2 separate regions of the Homo sapiens genome follow, and region 1 is linked to region 2. The links come from fine-mapping of genetic effects on gene expression. Tissue or cell type: whole blood. Region 2 holds a variant in brackets; the other region holds the start of a gene. All regions are shown on one strand. Distances are from middle to middle.

Region 1 (8,179 bases), 31 kb before region 2:
TCACAGCGGAATTGGGGCAGCTGGTCACAGCTGTAGTCGCCATGGAAGGAACAGCGTGGCTTCTGATGTGCCCAGTGCCATCTTCTTTTTCAGAAGGCAAGGATGTATAGTCCAGTTAGAAATGTTTTCATCAAAATGATTAAAAGAGAAACCAGTTGGCCATGATGAGTGTAGGGTTCAGTTGCCTTAAGAGTTGGAGGTGAGAAAGGCTCAGGCCCTGCAGTACAGCATTAGGGTCCTCCCCCTGGGCAGCGCCTGCTCTCTGCAAACCCAGGGTCCCTGGGAACTGTATGCTTTCCTTGCTGGCAAGCCAAGGTCAGGGAGGGAGGGCCTGGCTGAGTGATGCACTCTCCCATTCCAGTTTTCCCAGAGTAGACAACCACACAGGGGCCTGTGGGCCGGGCATGACCTGCAGTTATGTTTTATTTATATATTTTTTAGAAATAGGATCTTGCTCTGTCACTCAGGCTGGAGTGCAGTGGTGCAATCATGGCTCACTGTAGCCTTGAACTCCTGGGCTGAAGTGATCCTCCTGCCTTAGCCTCCCAAGTAGCTGGGACCACAGGAGCACAGCACTACACTCAGCCTGCAGTTGTGTTTTGTTTGGTCTGTCCTGTTTTTAAAAAAATTTGACTTTGTCACCAATGTTTACAAATTGGGAGAAATCCAGAGCTTATTTTTTGAAAATCAAGATATAAGGTAACACCATGTTCTCACCACCTCTGTGGCAGTGATTTGCTGGGGGCCCCTCTGGGCTGGCCTAGCTCTCTGCACTTGGCCACAGTCCCTTCCAGTCCCTACAGAACCCATGGTGAGGCGGAGCGTGTATGCTGTTTGTCCCTTGGCATGAGAGTCTATGTTTCCTGTGCCCACCTGTCTCCCACATTTGTGTGACTTGTATGACCTCTGCTGGGATTTGAACTTGTGACCTTTGACAAAGAGATGCTCTTTTGCTCCCAGTGAACCTCATCCCCACTCCCATCAAAATTTGGGAATCCTGGACACTTCTCTGTTAGCAATCTCAAGATCCACATGATGCCTTTTAGCCCAAAAGAGGTGCTGGACATCCAGCGATACCTGGGCTGATGGGATTTCTCCCCAGACACAAATAAATCTGAGCGTGCATGCGTGTGTCATCTGCGTCCCTTCCCCTGGCTTCTCCAAAATCCTTTCCACACAGCCTGGAGAGTACAGGTCTGGCTGGCCAAGGCACAATCTCTGTGGTCCTTGTAATTTGGGGCACTCCTTTGAGACTACCAAGTTCAAGTCTCTGCCTGAGCCCCACTGGATGACCACATTGAGCTGACTCAAGCCCACCTGGTGAAGTGGCGCGTCTGACCCTCGCCAGGAGTCCTGTTGCTCCTTTCAGGGTATCTCAGCAGAAGGCTGAAACAACCTAGTATCTGAAACAACCTAGTATCAGATTTGAGCTTTGGTTGGGTGGGGGAGTCTTAGGAAGCGGGGATTTGCTCTGGATTGGCTCTTACCAGAAATCGGGTCAACACCATGACTAGGTTTCTGACTAAATCCTATATACAGAGAGGGAAGCACACAGACAGACAGGCTGTCAGGGGTACAAAAGCGGCGGCTGCTCACGTTAGCTGAGAGAGGGGCTGCTGGGTATCTTGTAAATGGCACAGCAAGTGACCTCGCTTTATCTGGGTGGAGACACATCATGAAGTGGCCTTGCTTTGTCTCATGTCATTGTGTTTCAGTGACCTTGGCCTAGGTTGGTTTTCTGCGTGATGGTTCAAGTCTTACAGAACAGAGTGGCCCAGCTGTAGCACCCGGCCAGTTTCTGGATGGCAGGGGCTGCCCTTTTTCTTTCTCAGTCCCCTTCATTTTACACATGAGGAAACTGAGGCACAGAGAAGTTGTGATAGTTTAAAAATGGCTGCAAATTCTTTCCAGCACCTCCCATTGAGAGGTGGAGTACAAGTTCCCCTTGCCTGGGTCTGCAGTGTCTTATGACTTCTTTGATCACGAGAATGTGGCATAATCAATGCTGCGCAACAAGTTGGGCATGGTGGCATATGCCTGTAGTCCAGTTAATTGGGAGGCTGACCCGGAAGGACTGCTTGAGGCCAGTTGGAGGTCGCACTATGATTGCACCTGTGAATAGCCACCACACTCCAGCCTCAGCAACACAGGGATGGACTTGCTGGGTCATGTGGAGATTATGTTTAGCTTTCTGCAGAACTGCCAAACTGTTTTCCACACCGCAACGTTATACATTCCCACCAGCCATATGTGAGAGTTCCAATTTTTCTATATCCTGTTTTTAAAAAAATTACCACTATTTGAGTAGGTGTGAAGTTGTATCTCACTGTGTTTTGATTTGCATTTCCCTAATGATTCGTGATGTTGAGCCTCTTTTTATTTGCTTATTGGCTGTTTGTATTATCTTCTTTGGAGAAATATGTCTATTCAAACCTTTGCCTTTTAAAAAAGTGGACTGTTTGTCTTCTTGCTAAGAGTTCTTTATATATTCCAGATAGTAGATCCTTATCAGATATTCGATTTGCACACCCTTCTCCCATTCTGAGTTGTCTTTTCACTGTCTTATTGGTGTCCTTTTACCTGAGTAAGTTTTTAATTTTGATGAAGTCCAAGTTATCTATTTTTCTTTCTTGTGCTTTCAATATTATATCTAAGAAACTATTCCCTAATCCAGGGTCACATAGATTTACACCTACTTTTCTTCAAATAGTTTTATGTCTTACGTGTAGGCTTTTGCTCTAATTTGAGTTAATTTTTGCCTCTGATGAGAGATACACGTCCAAATTGGTTCTTTTGCATGTGGAGATCCAGTTGTCCCAGTGCCGCCATTATTGAAATGACTATTCTTTCCTCTACTGAATGGTCTAGGAACAATATGTTTTCGGCATAAACTGATATATATAATAGATGTATCCTATTCTTTTTAATATTATAATTTGTGTTACTTAAAAAAATACTCTTAATAATAAAGCATTCATGTATTTAACAAATATGCACCAAGAGTCTTCCTGGGCACACACAGTGAATAGGACACAGTTCCTGGGCTCCAGGAGCCTACATTCCAGAGAGGGAGAGACAGTGAAGGAGCAGGGAAGGAACTCAACAAAACAACGGGTGATGAGAGCTCTAAGAGCAAACAGATCAGACAGAGGTGGGAATACGGGACTGGGTAAGCATGTGCTTTGGATCAGAAGGGGCGCAGAGTCCTCCCAGAGGAATCAGAGATCAGCTGCGCCAAGTCTCTGAGGCTGGAACCAGCTTGGCTTGCTGGATGAACTGGGAAAAAGAGGTGGGGTGCGGGGGAGGGGTGGGGGGGGCAGCGGGAGAGTGGCGGGAAGTGAGGGCAAACAGGTAGGGGAGGGTAGACTAGCAAGGCCATAGGCGCCTTCGGGAGCAAGGTGGAGGTGAGCATAATTTGATGTGCAATTTTTAGATCATAAAACGGTGCCCCGTGGATGGGAGCGAGTGGAGCGGAGGGAGACCGATGACCAGCTAGTAGTTATTTTTCAGGTACCCAGGAATAAAGTGCGGGTTTGGATCTGAGTGGTGGTGAAGTTGAAGTGGAGGAGTCCAGATTGAATGCGGAGGTGTACGGTGAGGTGGGGGAGGGTGAGGACCGGAAACAGTAAGTAATTAAGCTGTTGCAGAGTGAGGTTGTGCCAAGTTTAGTAGGAAATACAGTTGGAAATACAGGCAGGGGTCCTGCGTATCAGGGAGGCCCCGTGTGCCGAGCAAGGACCTGGGCCAAAGCAAACGAGGTCTGTGCGCCAGCGGCGGCAGGCGAGCTTGCACTTAAGTGAGCTGGGGGTAGGCGTCCGGCCTGTTGGACAGGTTCGAATCCTGGATCTGCCGGCTGCCGAGTGACTCGAGCTCGCCGTCCCTGTTTCCTCACCCCTGGGTGACCGCGCACGCTTAATCAGCTCGGACAGGTACAGCCCCTGGGACGCAGTCAATGCCTACGAGAGGTTGCCTGTTAAGTGTCTGAAATATTAATACGATTCGAAGTCAAGACAAGCCTCGTCTTCCACGCCAGCGGGAACGAGAAGGAATCGCTCAGCGTTGGGAGCCTCACCCCGTCCCCTGTCGGTCCCGTGCCCCGCCGCTCGCCCTCGTAGGTGCCGGCGCTCCGCCCCCCGACCCCGCGCCCCGCCCCCCGACCCCGCGCCCCGCCCCCCGACCCCGCGCCCCGCCCCCCGACCCCGCGCCCCGCCCCCCGACCCCGCGCCCCGCCCCCCGACCCCGCGCCCCGCCCTAGTCGGTCCCGGCGCCCCGCCCCCGCCTCCGCCTCCGGCGCCCCGCAGCCCAGCCTCACGTCACGTCAGCCCAGCAGGCCTCGCGCATCGCCCGGCGGCGTCCGCGCACGCGCGGTTCCGAGCCGGACTCTACGCCGGGGCTTGGCGCGGATCGCGTCCCGGGGCGGCGCACGCACACCTGGGCGGGGCGCGGGCAGCTCTGCGTCCGAAGCTGCTCCGACGCCGTCGCTGGGACCAAGATGGACCTCCCGGCGCTGCTCCCCGCCCCGACTGCGCGCGGAGGGCAACATGGCGGCGGCCCCGGCCCGCTCCGCCGAGCCCCAGCGCCGCTCGGCGCGAGCCCCGCGCGCCGCCGCCTGCTACTGGTGCGGGGCCCTGAAGATGGCGGGCCCGGGGCGCGGCCCGGGGAGGCCTCCGGGCCAAGCCCGCCGCCCGCCGAGGACGACAGCGACGGCGACTCTTTCTTGGTGCTGCTGGAAGTGCCGCACGGCGGCGCTGCCGCCGAGGCTGCCGGATCACAGGAGGCCGAGCCTGGCTCCCGTGTCAACCTGGCGAGCCGCCCCGAGCAGGGCCCCAGCGGCCCGGCCGCCCCCCCCGGCCCTGGCGTAGCCCCGGCGGGCGCCGTCACCATCAGCAGCCAGGACCTGCTGGTGCGTCTCGACCGCGGCGTCCTCGCGCTGTCTGCGCCGCCCGGCCCCGCAACCGCGGGCGCCGCCGCTCCCCGCCGCGCGCCCCAGGCCTCCGGCCCCAGCACGCCCGGCTACCGCTGCCCCGAGCCGCAGTGCGCGCTGGCCTTCGCCAAGAAGCACCAGCTCAAGGTGCACCTGCTCACGCACGGCGGCGGTCAGGGCCGGCGGCCCTTCAAGTGCCCACTGGAGGGCTGTGGTTGGGCCTTCACAACGTCCTACAAGCTCAAGCGGCACCTGCAGTCGCACGACAAGCTGCGGCCCTTCGGCTGTCCAGTGGGCGGCTGTGGCAAGAAGTTCACTACGGTCTATAACCTCAAGGCGCACATGAAGGGCCACGAGCAGGAGAGCCTGTTCAAGTGCGAGGTGTGCGCCGAGCGCTTCCCCACGCACGCCAAGCTCAGCTCCCACCAGCGCAGCCACTTCGAGCCCGAGCGCCCTTACAAGTGTGACTTTCCCGGTAACCGCGCTCTCGGGGGCGGGCGGGCTGCGCGGTGTTGCAGGCAGGTCTGGGGTGCCACGTCCGCCCCACAGAGGGGCCTGCCAGACCTTAGCAAGCCGGGGACGCAGGCTCTTCGGGATTTGTATTCTAGCTCCTTCCATGTCATTCGATTTGAGATCTTGGCCCTGCCCTGCCGCAGGGATTCCGATGGCAGGTAGCGCAGATCACCACAGCTGCGCTTCCCAAAGGTGGCGGCAACAGATATCCTTAACCTGCTTGTGCTTGATGAAAGCGGCACGCATCTTCACAGAGTGGCACGGAGCTATGTGTCAGGTCTTTATTTTCCTCAGTCTCGTCATTTGTTTACGGGGTGCACACTCCGTGCTAGAGGAGCAGAGATGAATGTGGCCAGATTCAGGACCTTAACACGCTGGGAGGATAGCCACAGGTGTGCGCACATCCTGGCTTTTTTTGCCTTTTGCACTTTGATTTCCGTTGAACCTCACAGTTTTGTGAAGTTTTAAAAATTAGCCGTCTGTGAAGGTTAAAAACTGTCCTCTTTTACAGATGAAGAGACAGAGGCCGAGCCTTGTGGATAAAGTCCACTGCTGGTGGCTGGGCGCGGTGGCTCACGCCTGTAATCCCAGCACTTTGGGAGGCCGAGGCGGGCGGATTACGAGGTCAGGAGATCGAGACCATCCTGGCTAACACGGTGAAACCCCGTCTCTATTAAAACTACAAAAAATTAGCCGGGCGTGGTAGCGGGCGCCTGTAGTCCCAGCTACTCGGGAGGCTGAGGCAGGAGAATGGTGTGAACCCCAGAGACGGAGCTTGCAGTGAGCCGAGATCGCGCCACTGCATTCCAGCCGGGGCGACAGAGCGAGACACCGTCTCAAAAAAAAAAAAAAAAAAAAGTCCACTGCCTGTTCTTTCTCCTGTGTGTTGACCTGCAGTTGTTGGGAATGTAGGACTCCAACACAGTGAGCTCTTCACCAGGATGGGCAGCTTTCCCTGCTTTCACAGGGATAGGGTTCCTCCAGAAGGGCAAGAAAGGATTCCTCCCTGGAAAGGCAGAAGAATGGAGTCGGCTGGGTGGCAGAGCCCAGGTGGGGATTGTGGTCTGTGGTGAGGGCCCAGGAGGAAGGACCAGTCATTCAAACAGAAACTGGAATGTGTGCCTAGCATGCCCCTAACCTGTATATGCACACGGCTCTCCTTATAATGTCCTTAAACAAGAATTTTTAAAGGATGAGATGAGAATTATGAACGGGTTTTATTATTTTTTCCCTCGCATATGCCTGTGGACTGTCTTGCGCATTCCTCTTCAGAGAGAATGTGGCTTGAGGCCACTAGCTCAAAGTCTTTTTCAGTCATACACTCTTGGGAATCTGATGGTGGCTGTAGACCCTTTCCCTGCTAAAAGAGTATCATTCTGTGTATGACACTGGGAAGGTCAGGGATCCCGCCTGCTTCCAGGCATGAGGTCTCTTGAGGGTTTTGTGTTGGCTGATCCATGAGGCTTCTTGTGTTGAGATGAGATTAGATGGTTAGATGAGATTAGATGTTTAGAAGCAGGAGCAGGACCAGGGAAGCATCATCAAAGGGCCCAGACCTGAGTTTTCTGAAGGCCTGAGCCAGGGAGTGGGAATGATGAGGGTCTCTAGCAGGTGAGATTGCAGAGGGAGAACCAAAGGGTGTAATTATCTATGGGGGTGTGGGGGGTTCTTGCCAAGGCAGAGAGAGTCTGTGTTCAGATTTACATGACCAAGTGTGTGAACACACCGAAGCCCAAAATACCCTGGAGGTATTTTGGGACCAGATTGAGGCCAAAGATCAGCATTTCTGAGTTAGATGTTGCTGGGGAAAGTAGGGTTCCTTGGGCTGATACTTTTGGGCAGTGCTATGCCATGTACATCTGTGTGGCAGTTCATAGGCATGATAGTATCTCGTTAAAGGCTCCAAGAGGAGCTGCAGCAAAGACTCCTGTTAAACATCCTGCAGCCTCATGTTTTCCACCCTGTTGGAGCCCTGAATGTTTCTGTCGGAGGAGAAGTATTGCTGTGGAATTGTTGAGGCTTAGCTGCTTTGGCCAGGGGTTAGGATTGAGGTGAAGATTACAAAGCAGGGAACCTAAGGAAATTGCGAAAGGAAAAAGAATCCAAACAGCAAGGGACAGGGCTGGCAGTTGGAGGGTGTCAGGGAGGAAATTTGGATATGTAGAGGATGCAGCATCACCCCCAAGGGGTGAAAAATCCTGGCTAGTAGGATGATTTGTAGCCTTTCAAAGATCAACCCTACCAGACAAAATCTTGTTCCTTAGTATTTGATTTCTCTCATGGGGTTCTTGGGTCTCAGTGTGTGTGCAGGATCAGTGCTCCGGAGCCGGCCAGTAGATGGCTGTGAACGGAGGACTTTCTCTTTATCGGTTGCTCCATCTCCAAGTCATGTTGCAACAGGTGGCCAGCGTGTGCCTATTGGCTGCCATTAGCTGCCTTCCTGTGGTGATCACAAAGCCAAGCATTAATGGTCTTCCCTTTTTAGAGAGTGCTTCTGAGTCATGTTTTCCCTTGTCTGCTTCAGTGTGAACAGGGTCTGGTGGGTGTGACTAGCATTAGCTATGTTGTATAATTTTTGCCACGCTTTGAGCAGGGTTTGTGTTTTCCTTGTTCAGGCTGTGAGAAGACATTTATCACAGTGAGTGCCCTGTTTTCCCATAACCGAGCCCACTTCAGGGAACAAGAGCTCTTTTCCTGCTCCTTTCCTGGGTGCAGCAAGCAGTATGATAAAGCCTGTCGGCT
Region 2 (8,179 bases):
CGTCCCGTCTCCCCAGGCAGTTCCTGCACCTCCTGCCGTGTGGATGCTGGCCGTTGCTGTCTGACTCGCATTCTTGGAGACACTGACCCAGGCTCCTCTCAGCGCTTCCAGCCAGGTTTGGCAGTGGGAACATTAGGGGGAGATTAGAGGGTGTGTGGAGCGAGGCAGGGCCTCACTTGCTCTGCTTCCGTGGGAGTTTCATGGCGATGGCCGTCTACCCTCATGGCTGTGGCCCCAGTTCTTCCTGGGTGGCCCCTGCTGTAGTTCTGCTATACGCTGTCCCTGTTCTGGACTCTGGTGACGCCACACCTTCCCTAGTCCCTCCAGCCCTAGGGGTGGCAGCCCCACGACGTGCTGGTCTCTGGTGCTTGCTTCTTAGTGCATGGCCGTGCCATGCCCTGGTGCCTGCCCGGGATGCCTGTGTGGAATGCCCAGAGTGTTCTAGGCAGGGTCCCCTCTGTGATTAGCTCCTCAAGGGTGGTGTCTGTGTCACAGACACTTTGGGGTCCTGTCAGTGGCCTCTCGAGGCTCCCAGGGTACCCTGTACTTTCTCACCCCTTGTTGCTCATCTATTGTGGGTTTGTCTGTGTGCTGCAAAATGCACGGCTGTACTGAGCGCACCAGCCAGCAGCTGTAAGCTCCATGTGCAGGGCCACCATCTGGCCGAGCACCTGCCATGTGGTGAAGATACAGTACATACTTGTTGAATGGGTGATGAAACTTGCGCAGACCTCAAATAAAAGCTAATAATTTAATGTATAAAGCTAACATACCCTGGTTCTAAAACTTGACAAAGGTGTGATAACTATTGAAGACATACGGTGTGCCCTGCACAGTTCTAAGCCCAGCACATCTACATCTATTACCCCATTAGTCCTCGCAACAATCCTGTGAGGTGTAGGTCCTCGTGTCCCCACCTTTCTGGATGAGAAAGCTGAGGCAGGAAGAGTTCAGCCAGGGCTGCATAGCTGGTAGGGGCAGGGGCAGCGGCAGGATTGAACCCAAGGCCGGCTGCCCTCAGAGCTGTTACTGAGCCTGTTGGCCACGTGGTATGCAGGAACACTGTGTCTCACCTCCAGCAGGTGAAGCAGGCATGGGAATCCCAAGTGAAATACCAGCACATGGACAGCGGGCGAGGGTGATGTGGGGCGAGGCAGCCTGTCAGCATGATTTGCCACAGCAAATGCCGCAAGAGACGTGCAGGGTCCACAGAGGCCGAACAGGGCAGTTGATGACATTCATCACCTGCTACTGATTTGAAAACATCACAAATATGAATCAACTAGGAACCCAGATTTCCCTAATACTAGAGAGCAGCCAGCTGTCAGTGGCATTTTCAGTGGAGAGATGTTGGCATCCCCCCAAAGCTGGAGGAATGGTAAACCAAACCATTGGCGCAATCTATTTGACACTTTTATGGAAGTCTCTATTTTTAAAGAAGCAGAATCAAATAGAAAGGAGAGAATGATGATTACTTAATGACAAAGTCATTGTCAGGCTTAGAAAACCCAGGGGAATCAACTCAAGCAATTAGAAATAAGAAGGATCAATAGATAGCTAATTGCACAGTACATATTTGTATATATAAAATTAATAGATTTTCCAATAAGAATAATTGTGAAAAACTGACCTTATTCATAATGACAGTAAAAGTAATAAAATATGCCAGGCTCACTCATGACAAGTGTGCTCTGAATGGGTAAGGTCCTGTGTAGGGTCTGCCAGCTAGAGATGCCCAATTCTTGTTCACTTACATACTTTATTCAGTTCCTGTAAAATCCCAGAGTAACTTAAACACCTGTCTACTTTAAGTTCATCTGGGAAGGTAGCTTGGTGAGAATACCCATGAAGGCTGTGAGATGGGAGGAGGCAGTCGGGTACTCAGGGCCTGCCAGATGCCCTGGAGGAGAGAGTGCCCCTGCAGAACAAAGGACCTGTCGTGTGAGCAGCACATCCCTAAGCAAAGGGTGAGCACTCAGCACAGGCAGGGCTGGTCATGTGGGTTTACTCTGGAAGAGATCATTGTGGGTTCCTTATGCTTTCTCCCCTGTAGCTTCACCACCCAAGAAAAACTACTTACAGTGTTTCAGTGTTAAACTGAATGAAACCTACACAAATGTGAAATCTGAAACCTACACAAATGACTTGTTTTTGAAAAATGATAAACATTTTTATCTGCTTTTTGTTCTTAATATGAATATTTTTCCTTGTGGATAAGTATATTAACATATTATATCTTTATAAGAGCTGTGTTGAACTAACCATGTCAGGGACCTAGTGAGTTAAGCCCCAGTGACCTCTGATCTTCCACCCTTGGGAGAATTGGGAAAATAGTCACTTACCTCCTGTTCAAGTGAGGATCTCAGTAGAGGAAGCTCGCATGACCCCCTGTGGTTATCAAGGGAGGGGCCTGAGCCTCATCTGTGCAGATCCTTTCTCGGGGCACCTGGCTGGCTCTGAACTCTGTCCTGTGGCAGGCACTGCGGTGCTACTGGTGTGGGGATGGCATGCTGTTTGAGCCAGGCCCAGTGCTGTTGACCTCACCTAATTCTCGTCATGGCACGGTGAGGTGAAAGCAGTGTGGCCATCTCCATTCACCGCAGATGATGGGAGCTGAGTCACATAGCTGGATCGTCCAGCTCCCAAGCCGGGGCCCTTGACCACTTTGCTATTTACCATCATACCTAGATAGGACTCTTCCTTAAGGAGTCCTTCCTTGCTTCCCAGGAGGTTGCTTGGTGTTGGATTTATACTGCTCCTCTCCCCACTCCTGCAGATTCTCCAGCACAAGCAAGCATTTTGGATAATGATTGAAAATATTGAAGCAAAATGTAGTTCGGTGTTGTTACCTTGTTCTATAAGGGTTTGTGGTTGTCCATTGTGAGAGAGGAATTTGATTTTTCTTGTGACTGCTTTATTAATTAAATTGATCATATTGCATTTGATGCCATGGCGCCCTTTACTAGTGAGGACCCAGGGCTTCATGGTTATCGTGAGGACGTGGTGTGGACCCCATTTGTTTGCTTTGGCATGTCCTTAAGCATCCCTAGATAAACATACTTGCTTAGTTAACCCAGGAAGTTTATGATTAACTTTCAGCCATCTTAAATGTTCACGACATACCACCAGACTTCAGGGTGTACCGTCAGGGATTCTAGGACAGAACACCCTGCTCAGGCCTGGGGGACAACTCAGCAACTGGGGCTTGGCCCCTCCTCCCCTGGCTGCCCTGTTCTCTCACAGCTGTTGGCCTGGACCCCTGCATCCTTTCCAGGTTCATCTTCCAGGTGCAGTCCTTGCTGGAACGGACTCTCTGAGAAGGGGTGTCCGAGCTCATCTGTGGCAGGTTCTCCCCCTCACCCACAGCTGTCCTTCTGCTTGCCAAAAAACGGGGAGGCTGCAACTCTCCACCAGACTTCTACTGCAGTGTGTTGCCTTGGAGTGCACACAAAAACAGGATATCCTTCCAGAGCACCAAACCCAGGGGCAGTTCCAAATACTGGTTTCAGGGAAGCATCCTGTAGAATAATACCGACATTAAAACTTTAATGAGCCGGGCTTGCCAGCTTACCCTTCCTGTGCAGAGATGTGTCTAGGGGTGGACGCTGAGATGTTCTGCTTGAGGTACATCAGAGAGGGGATGTGGGGCATGGATGGACATCTCTCGTAGAAAGTCCTCACCTTTGCCAGCCCTCTGCTGTTGTCAAAGAATGTATTACTTTTCAGGAATGAGCCCTATGTATGTATAAGCGTGAGCAATTCTTTTCAGCTATTGACTTTTTATCCCTAGACGAGTTGTTAGCTGGGAAGAAAAATACCTTCTGATGCAAATTAGTGGTGGTGTTTCTTCTCAGTGTAACTGGTGTCTACAGGACTACCTGAGACACTGAATTAAATGTGCGGATTGAAAAGAAATTCCTGTGATTTTTTTTCATATTGTATGCTGATACAGAAGTTGAAACCAATTTAGCTTGTCATGAGATATTCTCGTTACAGCCTATCTTTTTTCCTGTTGTAAAAGTAATACAAGTAAATTGTTAATAAAGATAGAATCATTTTAGTTACTGGTTTAGGTATAAAAGGAAAGTGTAACCATGTCTAGCAACATTAGTGGAATTATTTCTGATTTTGCACCCAATTCTGATTTTCCCATGATTCGAATGGCACATACATTCTAGCACACATTTTGCAAAGGAATATTAGGATTCAGTCATATTTCTTGCTTTGTAGGTAACTTAGAGCGTGGCGTACACATTTGGCATTGAATCATGATGAATGGCTCAGTTTTATCTTGTTTATGTTATAAAACTTGATAATAAATACTTGATATACATCATTTAAAATCTTGCCTGCTTTTAAAAGAAATCTGGAGAGATACACTATTCACTGCCTGCCTTAATTTATTCTACAGTGGTTTTCATATTATTATTATTTTTTTTTTTTGAGAGGGAGTCTCGCTCTGTCACCCAGGCTGGAGTGCAGTGGCATGATCTCGGCTCACTGCAAGCTCTGCCTCCTGGGTTCATGCCATTCTCCTGCCTCAGCCTCCCGAGTAGCTGGGACTACAGGCACCCGCCACCACCACTGGCTAATTTTTTGTATTTTTAGTAGAGACGAGGTTTCACCGTGTTAGCCAGGATGGTCTCGATCTCCTGACCTTGTAATCTGCCCGCCTTGGCCTCCCAAAGCGCTGGGATTACAGGCGTGAGCCACTGCGCC[C/T]GGCCAATATTTCTAATATAATAACATGTTTCAGTATTTTTATTTGAATTTAAAAATGAAGCCAGGCCTTTTATTAGAAAGCAAGCGTAATGCGACTGTTCTGGCTGCAGCACCGGCCCTGCTGCTGGGGCTTCGTGGGCAGGCAGTTCCCCCTCACTTGAATAAACTCAACCTGCAGCTGCAAAGTTGTGATGACACATGAGCATCTTATTTTAAAAAAGTTTTTAATTGACAAGAATAGATGCTGACCATGTCTAATTCTAGCAAGAAGTAATATTTAGACACAAATACATGAACTAACTGGGGAAGAAAACCACCAGTCAGTCCCACTCCTCTTGAAAAGCATTTTTAATATAATTTTGCTTTTAATATCATAATTATCTATCAAAGTTTCTGATATATTTTGTTTTGATTTGTTTTGCATTACTAATAATTGCAGTTGTAACAGTTCAAACCAAAAATGTTAATGCCTAGAAGTTAAATAAAAGTTAAGTTTATGTACATATTTTTATATGCTAGGGTGATAAAAGACTTGAAAGCATAGAAATGCATTCAGGTAAAATTCTGGAGGTAAGTGGGATAGTATACAAGCTCACGGAGGATATAGGCACGCTTCATTTTTTGCAGTTGACTTTTTTTTTGCTTTTTACAAATTGAAGGTTTGTGGCAAACCTGTATCCAGCAAGTCTGTTGGCACCATTTTTCCAACAGCATGTTCTCACTTCATGTCTATGTCGGTATTTGTTAGCAATAAAGTATTTTTAAATTAAGGTATGCATTGTTTTAGACATAATGTTATTGCAGACTTAATAGACTGCAGTACTAGGAACTGATGTGAAGTTTCCTCAAGGAGGGGTGAGTAAGTTTTGTGCCCCAGGCACCTCTCTTGCCCCAGACCCAGCCCTGCTCTTCTGTCTGAAGCAAGTAGAGCAATTAGAAAAAGAGAAACCAGGCGTGGAGAACAGTCAGAGATGATCCAGAGCGAGGGTTGCTGGGTTTTCTGGAACACTGATGGATGAACAGAAAGGAAGTATTTTGTAATGGAAGTGCATCTCCCTGCAGTGAGGGGGAACTGAATCTGTGTTACCCAGAAACCTCCTGGTTAGCATTTGCACTTCAAAGAAAAAGAGCCCTGAGGCACCCAGAAAAGACAGCAGGCTGTGCCTAAGTACAGAGGACCCAAGGTTTGTGCACCCAGTTGGCTTGCCTGCTGAGTGTGAAGCTCTCCGGGACCCAGGGCACTGCGGAAGACAGGAAGGGATCTGGAGTGAGGTGAGCAGGTCAGGGAGACAGCATATGCAGGGCAAGTCAGCTCTCACCCCATGGGCTGCTCAGAACCTTCCTGTCAAACAGCCTCGTAAAAACAGCCTGCCTTGGGCAGCAGGGTCACCCAATTGAATACTTTTATTAGGAATAACTTATATGATAGTCATTGTACAGTTGTTTTTTTGAAGCCGTTCATAGCTGGATCCCACACATCCAGGCAGGGATGTGTGGGCAGAGCAGTGACAGTGCCTAAACTCCTTGGCACTCGCCAGTCACTGTTCTAAGTTTTGATCACATATTTCCTATGAAATCCTCTCCAAAACCTTCCGAGGTTGGGACTAGCATTCCCATTTTACAGGTAGATAATGCTGAGGCCCAGAGCTTGAGTTCCTTTTCCAGATCCCTGGAGCAGAGTGGGTGGCGGGTCAGGGTGAGCCTAGCCGGGGTCTCTGCAGTGCACGCTCTAGGCTACCTTTGGGCCCTTTTGAAGCAGCTCTTGGGTTTGTTATGGGTGTTAAGATTTTTTCTTTTTTCTTTGTGCTTTACTTCATTTCTTAAGAAGCACATATTTGTAAAACCCATGGAGTAGTGACTTGGAAAGGAGCTGGACAGAGGCAGCAGTCCACCCACAGGTGGGGTATGGAGACCGCCCGCTTCCTTCCTATTCCATGATGCTGTGGCTCTGGGCTGTTGGCTGTCCTCAGTTGCGCTTGGGATTCCTGCCAGCCAGCAGCTGCTGGAGTTAGAGGATTCTGCTCTCCAAGAATTTGCAGCTTGTGTCTGATTACCGTACCGTCTGGCAAAAAAATACGTATGATGTTTTTACATTTTTAAAATCAAAATCCTGATGTTTTTTTGTTCGTATGGTTGTTTGTTTCAACCTCTTAACTCTTGATTTTTTCTGTTAAGTGATTTTACGTCTCTTAGCTGTGCAGAATGACAATTAATGGGAAGGCTGTCTTCCCCATAGTGAGACCTTGGTAAGGGCAGACCTGACTGGTAGATTGTAGATTGGGTGTGCTCGTTTTTATATTTCATTTTAGGAGCCTCACAGTCTACTCAGAGAAAAATAAAAGAAGGCAAAATGAGTCCTCCCCATTTCCATGCAAGCCAGAACAGTTGGTTGTGTGGGAGCCTCGTGGTGCCCAGCGGAGGACGGCCAGGACCAGCTCCAGCAGCTGGGGTGCAGTGCGGGGCGCAGGGCGTCCAGGTCCAGCTGGTGCAGGTGAGAGCTGGCCAGTCACACAGGCCAGCTGTAGGCGGGGTGGGAGGGTCACGCAGGTCTGAGCAGTGTGCGGCATGCTGCATCCCCTGCCCATCGCAGCACCCCCTGCCTGCCTGCCCCTCGTGCATCCTCCCCTGTAGACTGCCCCAAGTCCTGTCTCCTCACAGCCCAGCTCCTCCCTTTTTCCCAGCCTGTCCTGCATCTGCTCAAGCTCTGAGTGTTGCTGGGACCGTGCATCCACTTCCTGAACCTGTCTGTGCACAGCCCTGCGTCTAGCCCCAGAGTAGCCCGCCTCCCTGCCCGAGGCCCCCAGGGCTGTTTTGCAGCAGGATGAGATCTGTTTGAGGCCACCCTGCCCTTCTTCTGCAGGGCTGGGGCAAAAGGGCTCCGCAGGCCGTCTCAGCCACCCCATTTCTAGGGCGGCCTGCTTGTGGCGCACTAGCAGCCTTTCTATGCTGAAGGTGGTGGGGGTCTTTTCAGTGTTTTTCTATTTTCTTTCCTACGAAACAGAGCCCCTCCAGGGCAGGCCCAGGCCCCTCCCAGCCTGTCCGGGCCACAGATACCTGCAGCTGTGGCCAGTTTCCAGGAGGTCTTTGAGCACACCTGCTTCAGCAGCCCTGAGCACACCTGCATCTTCAGTCTCAGTTTGAGGGGCTGGAATGGGGAGGGAAGATGATTTGGAAGGATTTGGGGAGAGAAGAGATATACAAGCCGGGGCTGTCTGGGTTTGGCCCAGGTGTGTGCCCCTCTTCACCACTCCACTTTGTAGATTCCCTGTGGCAGGGGATGCGGTTGCAGGCCCCACGGAAGTGCGGAGGGTGGAGGTGACGCTGGCTCTGAGTTGGGAAACAGGCACGTTTGTGGGTTCAGAGTCCTGGGAGAGTCTCGCCAAGGAAACAGGACCAGGCCTGGGGCTCAGAGAGGCAAGAGGAGGGGCAGCCTGGGCAGAGGTGGGCTGGGAAGGGGGCA

What was found. PIP is the estimated chance that this variant, and not a neighbour inherited with it, causes the effect.
Region 1: it holds the start of ZXDC, and the variant in region 2 is fine-mapped to the expression of ZXDC in whole blood (INTERVAL, PIP above 0.99).

Annotation. Positions count from the first base shown.
Region 1 is chr3:126,472,179-126,480,357 of GRCh38, reverse strand. It overlaps ZXDC (ZXD family zinc finger C), which reads left to right and starts at 4,467. Exons shown (of 10, transcript NM_025112.5): 1 at 4,467-5,399; 2 at 8,053-8,179. The coding sequence starts at 4,493. RefSeq lists silencers at 4,198-4,707, 4,778-5,037 and an enhancer at 5,595-6,120.
Region 2 is chr3:126,440,796-126,448,974 of GRCh38, reverse strand. It overlaps ZXDC (ZXD family zinc finger C), which reads left to right. Exons shown (of 10, transcript NM_025112.5): 8 at 7,029-7,210. Among named protein-coding and RNA genes, the nearest start is that of ZXDC, 31 kb to the left of the region's middle. RefSeq lists enhancers at 1-647, 7,097-7,732. The variant C/T (reference allele first, on the strand shown) is at 4,720.